Regions from separate parts of the Homo sapiens genome. Here region 1 is linked to region 2. The links come from fine-mapping of genetic effects on gene expression. A gene starts in region 2. The other region holds a variant in brackets. All regions are shown on one strand. Distances are from middle to middle. Region 1 has its middle 16 kb from the start of GOLGA6L10. Region 2 holds the start of SAXO2 (stabilizer of axonemal microtubules 2).

What was found. PIP is the estimated chance that this variant, and not a neighbour inherited with it, causes the effect.
Region 1: its variant is the best candidate, but not a certain one, in a credible set for the expression of SAXO2 in microglia (Young 2019, PIP 0.65).

What each region holds. Positions count from the first base shown.
Region 1 is chr15:82,331,599-82,335,848 of GRCh38, reverse strand. It overlaps the pseudogene ADAMTS7P1. Among named protein-coding and RNA genes, the nearest start is that of GOLGA6L10, 16 kb to the left of the region's middle. The variant T/C (reference allele first, on the strand shown) is at 2,610.
Region 2 is chr15:82,260,199-82,264,429 of GRCh38, reverse strand. It overlaps SAXO2 (stabilizer of axonemal microtubules 2), which reads right to left and starts at 1,612. Exons shown (of 4, transcript NM_001348699.2): 1 at 1,498-1,612. The coding sequence starts at 1,550. It overlaps EFL1 (elongation factor like GTPase 1), which reads left to right and starts at 1,696. Exons shown (of 20, transcript NM_024580.6): 1 at 1,696-1,816; 2 at 2,633-2,742. The coding sequence starts at 2,652. RefSeq lists enhancers at 1,392-1,461, 1,482-1,571 and a silencer at 3,580-3,766.

The DNA.
Region 1 (4,250 bases), 71 kb before region 2:
TGGCCAGGCTGGTTTCAAACTCCTGACCTTAGGTGATCCGCCCACCTCAGCCTCCCAAAGTGCTGGGATTACAGGTGTGAGCCACCGCGCCCAGCCAGGAGTGATTTTCAGTGGTGTCCTCTCCATCCCCAGCATACACCCAGCCCTGAGTGGCCGCGGCTGCCACATGCAGGCTCCAGGGCTACATTTGCCTTTCGTCCAGGGTTGTCATACGCTGGAGAGTAGAATGTGAGAGGTGACCCCTGTAGGCTGCAGGGTGGCCTCTCTGAACCTTAGTGTCCCCCACCTGTAGAAGGGGCGTAACACCTTCCAGGGGGAGGGCTGAGGAGGAAATTGTCAACGGCTGAGTCTAAGGCTCACAGCCAGAGGCCAGGGTCGGATCCAGGGCTGGGCCTGGGCCTGGGAGGACAGTGTCCGCCCCTTCTCCAGCCTCCCGCCCCTGGTCAGGCCAGGACCCTCTTCAAAGCACCTTCATGCCCATCTGTTCCCTGCTGTGGGCACTACTGTCTGGCTCCATGGGACTAGATTTTATGGGAGGGGAAGGGGCTGTGGGTAGGCAGGTGCCAGGTGCTGGACCATAGATCAGCATGGTAGGAACCTGTTGCTTGGGCTGGTGGTGGGAAAGGGGCCAACCCAAGGCAGTGGCAATTAGCCCAGCCCTATCTCTGGGCACAGAGATGAAGGGACACGTGGGGACACAGTAGGGCAAAATTGGCCAGCCTGCTCTTCCCCTCTCTGCCCGCTTTTTGCAGAAGAGTCAACAGATAGAACAGACAGAGCCAGGGAGGTGCCCATGGGGGCCCCAGTCCCCACCACTCCAGGGGGCAGTCCCTGCAAGTGACAAGGTGGGCTCAATCCCTGTGGAACAGGTCTCTGAGGACCACAGAGTGGGGCCCCAGGGAAGGCTGGGAGCCTGAGCTGAAGGCAGGCAGCAAGTAAGGGCCAAGCTGTGCCCCTGCCCAGAAGACCTTCCTGCCCCCAGAACCCCACCCTCTGCAGACAGGCCTCCCTGGGCAGCAGCCCTCTGGCTTCCGAGGCCTTCCGTGCCTCACCAGATGCCATGCTCTCAGGGACTCGTTTGCTACGCTGCCCCCTGCAGATCTGCCCCAGAGGAGCAGGTGAAAAGCCGCGCCTGCCGAGGTGCTGCAGCGGTGGAGTTTTGGGCAGAGGGGTCGGGGGAAGAGTTTCTCACTTTTAAGATTCCCCAAATCCAAGATGAAGTCACACTGTGCTTTAGTATGGTAGATGCTCATTTATGTAAAATCATAATAAATGTTACACAAACTGTTAGAATAAAAAAATACCTTTTTCGAGGGGGAGGAGCTCCCCAGCCTGCCGCTGGGTAGTGAGAGGGGGTTAGCACCATTAGGGCGTAGGGGGCGGGAGCTCCGCCACAGCCCGTGGTGGGCACTGAGGTCTGTCGGTCGGTCTGTGCATCCTGGCACCGTCAGTGGCGGGTGACCCGCTGATGGCCTCGGGAGGGGGAGCCGTGGCTGGGCGGAGAGCACGAGCGGCAGCACTGGGTGCAGACGGTGGGCAGCTGGCAGCGGCCCAGTAGGCGCAGTGTCTCACAGAACCCGAAGGACAGGCGGTCCCGCTCACAGCCTGGAGTGGGGGGGCAGAGAGGCATCAGAACCAGTGGTTTGGGGTACCCAGAACCTGGCTCCCCACCCCAACCACCTCAAGGAGGCTCCAGCAGCTCCCCACCAAGCAGAGAGCCCCAGTTTCTGGAGCGGCTCCCAAACTGGACTTGCAGGTCTCCAACTGTTGGTGTCTCTGTCCCACCTACTCACGGCCGACCCCAGGACTCGAGAACGGGCGCTGCTGGGCTGAGGTTTCTGGAGGAAAGGTCCTGAGACCGCACCCTGACCCCCTCACATGCCTGTTAAAGAGCCTGCCCAGGGCGACGCCTTGCCACCCCATCTCCATCCTTGCTCACCCCTGGTGTTCCCCGACAGATCCTGGCACAGAACTGCGGTCCCGGGGCCTCCTGCCAGCCTGCAGTGGCCTCTGCCCCCGACTCCCGCCACCGCCCCCTGCCCCAGTGCATCTGTCCTGCCAGGCCTCCGTGACCACCTCCAGCCACAGGGGCTGTACTCAGCCTCGGGTTCTGAGTCACAGGTCGCATCTCCCAGGCCAGCCTCCCATTTCCCAGGTGGGCCACGAAGCCTAGAGAGAGTGGGCCCTACAGGCTGTCAGCGGAAACCAGGGACTAAGCCCAGGCCCAGTGGGGAGGGAGGCCGGCTGCAGGCTGTGGTTGTCAGGGCTGAGGCTTGGCTGGGCCCTCCTGCCCCGTGGTTATCAGAGCTATTTTGGGAAGTGGCTTGTTTCCAGCCTCCTGGCCTTGCTCCTGATGCCACTGCCACTGCTGACAGCCCCCACCTGCCGCCTGGGCCCTGCTTACTCCAGCAGACCTCCCTGGGGAGGAAGAGCAGGAGGACAGCAGCCAGCCCTGTGCCAGGGACATCCCTCAGGCCCGGCAGAGGGCACGAGGCAGCAGGCAGGCTCCTCCACCCCAGCTCCAGGCAGAGCTCCAAAGTGCACATCTGCAGGCCTGCATCCTGGTCGCCCGGGGTGACCTCAGACAAGCTGCTTCACCTCTTGGGCCT[T/C]GGTTCCCTCCTCTGTCAACCCCACCTCCACAGCAAATGGATGTGGCCATGCTGTGTCACTGCAGCGACCGCACACTCTGGAGTTTCCTGGCTTTCCCCCGTCCCGCCAACTGTCCCACAGACCAGCAAAACATCCTGGGAATTCCAGGTCTCAAAGTCCAAGACACCTTCCCAGCTGCCCCTCCACTGTTCACTGGTGGCAGAAAACTCCTCACTTAGGACAGCTTCTAGTTCAGCCACCTAACCAGCCCCCATAGCCCACTCCCTGCAGCCCACTCATACCCGCCCCTGGGAGACCTTACAAGCCCAGAGCCTCCTGGGCCATCTGTCCTTGGTTCTAGGCCCCCAGGGGCCTCAGTTCCTGTTCTCTGCTCCATCTGGTCCTCATCCCCTGGGATCATAACCACCCCACTCCCTGTGGCCAGCTCTAGCCATGAAGGCGAGAGATGTGATGCCAGCACCCAGCTCAGGCAGCACACAGGAGTGCTCTGAGATGCTGGCTGGGTGCGTGCTGAGGGCAGGCAGGACAGGGTGGGGGCACTGCCACTTGGCCTTGAGGTAATGGGGTTTGTGGCAGGAAGGCCACCCCTGCCAGAGGCAGGGTAGCAAGGCATGGCAGCGAGGCATGGCAGGGGCCACTCTGAGCCCAAATGAGGGCTGCCCAGGAGCCAGCGCAGGTAGAGAAGGCGCATTGGATAAGGGGAGAAGGCAGACTGGGGAGACTGCAGGGGGCCCCGAATGCCAGTTTGAGGGCCGTGGCTGAGGACTCTGTCCTAGGGTCAGGGGGCAGACAGCCAATAGCACAGGGGCCGCAGCTCTTCAGGCCACAGCTCCTGGATTCCTTAGACTGGCAGGGTCAGCCCCAGGCCCTCTCCCTGACCTTGCAATGGGGGATGACAGTGGCTTTGCGGGAGGGGAAAAAGCCGCCTTCCCTGAGCACCACCTGGATCCCCACGCAGTGCTGTGCCCTTCATGCCCAGACCTCACTTATGCAAGGATGGGGCTTGGCAGCCCCTTTATTCAGCACATGAAGGCCCTGAGAGGGAAATGGAGCCCAAGGCCACACAGCTGGTGAGGGGAGCCCAGGTGACACTCCAGGGCCACCCCATTTCCTGCCCTCAGCACTGCTGAGAGCAGCTGGGGCTGCAGGAAGTGTGTGAGTGTGTGTGTGTGTGTGTTGGAGGTGGGGGGTTGGGATATCCAGAACCACCTCTAGCTCAGGCCCTTCCACCAGGACCCAGCTGGCCAGGAAACCCCCCACCACTGGGATTAGCAGGACCCTGGAAGGGAGGCCCTTCCTGTGGTTCCATTGCTCACTCTAGGCAGTCCTCTGGCCAGGGAATGGACAGGCTAGGGCTGGGGAGGGGACAGGGACTCACCCAGGCCCAGTTTTCACACAGCTTCAGGGACATCCCTGGTCTCACTATGGGAAGACTGAGACCCAGAGGGGAAAGAGCTTACCCAGGTTCACACAGCAAATCAGGGGCCAAGGCCACTCTCTCTACTCACTGGAGGTCAGAAAGCTGCCTGCAGGATGTTGTGTAGCTGGGACTTCTCTTGACTGACTCCCAGCACAGCCAAGCCTCCAGCATGGGATCCTGTGGCATCAGGATTTTCAGTGGCTCCTGAGCCCAGACTACA
Region 2 (4,231 bases):
AACCGGATTGTAGAATAGTATGCTCAGAATATTCTCTTTTTTTGTTAAAAAAAAAAAAAAATCAATGCAGGCCAGGCGCAGTGGCTCACGCCTGTAATCCCAGCACTTTGGGAAGCCGAGGCAGGCAGATCATGAGGTCAGGAGATGGAGGCCAACATGGTGAAACCCCGTCTCTACTAAAAATACAAAAATTAGCTGGGTGTGGTCGCACGAGCCTGTAATCCCAGCTACTCAGAGAGGCTGAGGCAGGAGAATTGCTTGAACCCGGGAGGCGGAGATTGCAGTGAGCCGAGATTGCGCCACTGCACTCCAGCCTGGCAAGAGAGCCAGACTCTGTCTCAAAAAAAAAAAAAAAAAAAAATCAATGCATATGTAAAACAAGTCTTAAAGAACATTTGTTATCTGTGGAAGATAGAATTATGAAGGCGTTTTACAATATTATAGATATTTTTGCTTAGATTTTTATGATACTTCTTGTGTATTTATTGCATTGTCAAAAAATAAAAATAAACCCTTAAAAAGACAAAACTAACAACCACAGCCCAAAACAAACAAACAAGAAGTAAAATCACGCCATTCCAATGGTGGCCCTCAACATAATGAAGACTGAATTTCCTTACAGTTGAATGAGAAAGGAACTTGCGTTGAATATAAATTAGGAGAAAAGTAAAAATTTTCTCCTGCACACCAGTCTGAGGATTCATACACCCAAAGTTAATTTGTTGATATTTTAATCTATATATAATTATGAACTGTGTTTATTATGAGACTATTAAAAAAACTGCTTTCCATCAACATGTAGGTGTTTTCTTTGAATGGGATTACAAATACACCAGGGATTGACAACGTTCATATTTACTTAGCAAATAATGATCTAATCCCTGGGTCAATAGTGAAGCTGAGGAAGGAGAGGACTGTGTTTACAGGTGATGGAAGGTTGTTAGGCAGGACTCACAGTTGGATTCTAGATTTCAGGGTAGGGACTACTTACTGACTTTTCAGTCAGGCGGATCCCAAAGAACTGCTGCCTGGACGGGAATGGGAATATGGTCTGGCTGGGAGGACAGAAAGCTACAGATGAAAGAAAATGTGATATGGGTTGCAGACTCAGGGCCTTGAGCACTGTTCTTTCTCATCTTCGTGGTGGGGGATTATGGGGTGGAAATGCACTCTCCCAGTCGGATCACATCCCACTACTCACCAGCGTTATATCCCGTCGCGGCTTCACATATATTACTTACCTGGCCCGGGTGGCATTTTACTTTGCATCCTTGATTGGGAGTCTCAGGGGCTACGAACAAACGTTTTACCCCCGGGTAGCAGGCGGGTGAGGAGCGAGTATTCGCGGAGCGGGATAAGTGGGGATGTCGCTGCGCCCTCGTCCCTTCATCTCCGGGGGACGGCCACTCTCAGGGTTCCCGAGGAGCCGGCTCCGTGCACCTAGGCCCTAGGTCGGCTCCCAAGCCCGGGCCCGCCGCTACACCAGCCGTTTCTTACCCGCAGCTACAAATCTGACACAGACACCAGCTCCTCATACTCTTGGCTCCCATGCTTTCCTCCACCGCGCCTCAGCACTTGCAGCTTCTCCACTCCCACAGCGCCCGCCGTAGTCAAGGCAACAGAGGGATGCCCGGTGACAGACTCGGCGCCGGCTTCCGGCGGCGTCAGAGACGTGCGGGTGAAAGGTCGAGCGACAGCCGGCCCCGCCCCCTGGCGCGCGGGCGTGTCGGACCCGCAGAGCTCTCGGACTTTCGGAAGCTCTCGGTGTGGGTGCGACCCGAGAGAAGGAGCGGGGCTGGTGGGGCTGCTGCAGCCGGTGAGTGTGGGCTGGCGCTGGGGGCTGGAACCTCCTAGGCCAGCCTTTGGGCGGTGCCGGAGGAACCCGCTCGCTGCGGCTCTGAGGCGGGAACAGGGGCTGGGGCCGAGCGCGGGCTGGGAGCTTCGGTCCCCGGAGTGCCGCTTCCCGTCTGGGGCCGGGGCGGTCGCCTGTCTGTGTGGACCCAGGATCCTCAAAGAGAACGAATCTGGGACCCTGCAGAAATGAAGGGCATGTAGTGTAGAGGTTTTTCCTTTTTATTTAGAAAGGAATGAAAGACCGGCAGTGCACCTGCTTGGATAATAAGCACGTGACCCAAAACTTTGTTCGGGCTCCATGGGCAGGAATAAAGCTGGGTATTTGACCTCGCGCGAGGACGAGCGAGAATGTCAGAATGAGGGACTTGGGGGAAGACTGAAGAGAGAAAGGGAGCATCTTCTTCAGCATTTTCTCTCCCTCCTGGATGCAACCCTTCCTGTACGTGGTCATTGGCCTGGAGATGTTTACTGGAGTACTCCTCCACCGGCAGGGTTACTGGTGTCACTGTGCACCCAGTCCCCTCGAGCTGCGTGATTCATCGCAGCCTTTGGATCCGGAAGGATGAGCAAACTCCTTAAGTGTAATCGTGGTAGGATACTGACTTTAGTGCTCGAACTGGACTTAGGCCTTGGTGGTCTATCTCATCAATAAACATTCACTGGGTTCTTGGTTTAAGGGGTTTGAGAAGCTTGCCACCTCCCAGCGTTTATTATTATTTTTTTCTTTTGCCCCGACCTTTAGCCTCTGGGCCATTTGTAATACATATTTAATTTTTAGTCACAGGAAATAAGTAATCATGGTGCTCAACAGTTTGGATAAGATGATTCAACTCCAGAAAAACACTGCCAACATCAGGAATATTTGTGTTTTGGCTCATGTTGACCATGGTAAGAATACTTTTTAAATGGCTTATTTTGATAAATAAGGGAGATGTGTCTCTGTATGTCTCAGTGGAGTGAAGCTGTGGACAGCTGAGAGTGATGTTTGCTAAGAAGCAAGTCTTCTTTCTTTAAAAGTTTTGTGTGATGTTAGGGAAGCCTGCTTTGCTATAAAGCATTTGAAATGAACACGGTTACCTAGTGAGTAGCATTCTTCTATATATTATGTCATGTTGTTTTTTAAAGCAGAACTTGAATTTTTTGTTTTTGAAATGGCTTTACATATAAAATGTCTGTAGTCTTGACATAATGTCCTTAGAGTCTGTGGTATGTGATCCTATTTAATTCATCAGATATTTATCAAACGTCTGTTAAGTTCAAGATATTTTGCTTAGTATGTCTGAAGGTGGAGATTTATGAGTAGGGCACTAGCCCAGGGGAGGTTTTAACGGGGAGCAGAGCAAAATGAGACAAACAAGAGAAAAAAGTAGACTCTAAGGTTGGGAGAACTAGAGGATTAGGAAGTGAGGGGTTAGGAAAAGACCTCACAACATAATTAGTATTAGAGATGACACTTGAAGGGGGCTCAAGATGACAAATGGAGATAATCATTACAGGTGGGAATGTGTCATCAAGGGGAGAGGGAAATATATGTGGTCAAAGCCCAGTATATGGGAAAGGCAGAGATAGCTAACCCATGGTATGTTCTTCTGACAGATACTGCTGTAACTCCATAGCGCTCCTTCATGCTAAGCCTCCTCTTGATTTCAAACCTCTTGGTAGTTTAGGTAACCACAGCAAAGTGATTGGGATGGGCATATGAAATAAAACATATTTACCATCCTGAAGATGAAGGACCAGTTGGCGAGGTGAAGAAGCAGGCTGAGTCATATCTCATAGAGCTGCTCATGCCAGCTAGGAACTGGGATAAGAGTTGAGTGCTCCAGCTCTGGAGTTAGACAACCTAAGTTCAGATCTCCATTTTCAAGTTACATACCTTGCCTTTTTGAGCTTCAATATACAGCATCTGTAAAACAGGATGAAAACTATACCTGCTTTATAGGCTATAGGATTAAATGTGATAATAATGAGAGGGAAGGTAAACGCTTCACCATGAAAACGATCATTAATGTCTACTATTAGGCAGTAGGGAGCCTTTGGGGGAAAACATGGAGCAGGAATGATGTAATCAAATAAAACATGAGAAAGATTAGATTGGTAGACATGCTTAGGATGGATCCAAAGTCAGAGATTAGGTGGCTGTTGTCATTGATAGAAGAGCTGAAGTAATGTGAGTATGGAAACTGACAGAAAGACAGATAGTGGATCACTTACAAGTGAAGCCAGCTGTGAATGAGTTTTAGTACAAATCCAGTGAGTAACCCCTGCCTCCATGAGTTTTTATAATTTTACTGCTCACATTTTGAGAATGTGAAGGCTGATAAAAGGGTTTTTTTTTTCTTTATGAATTTATTCAAGTGGAAAGTTAGTGGGGTGT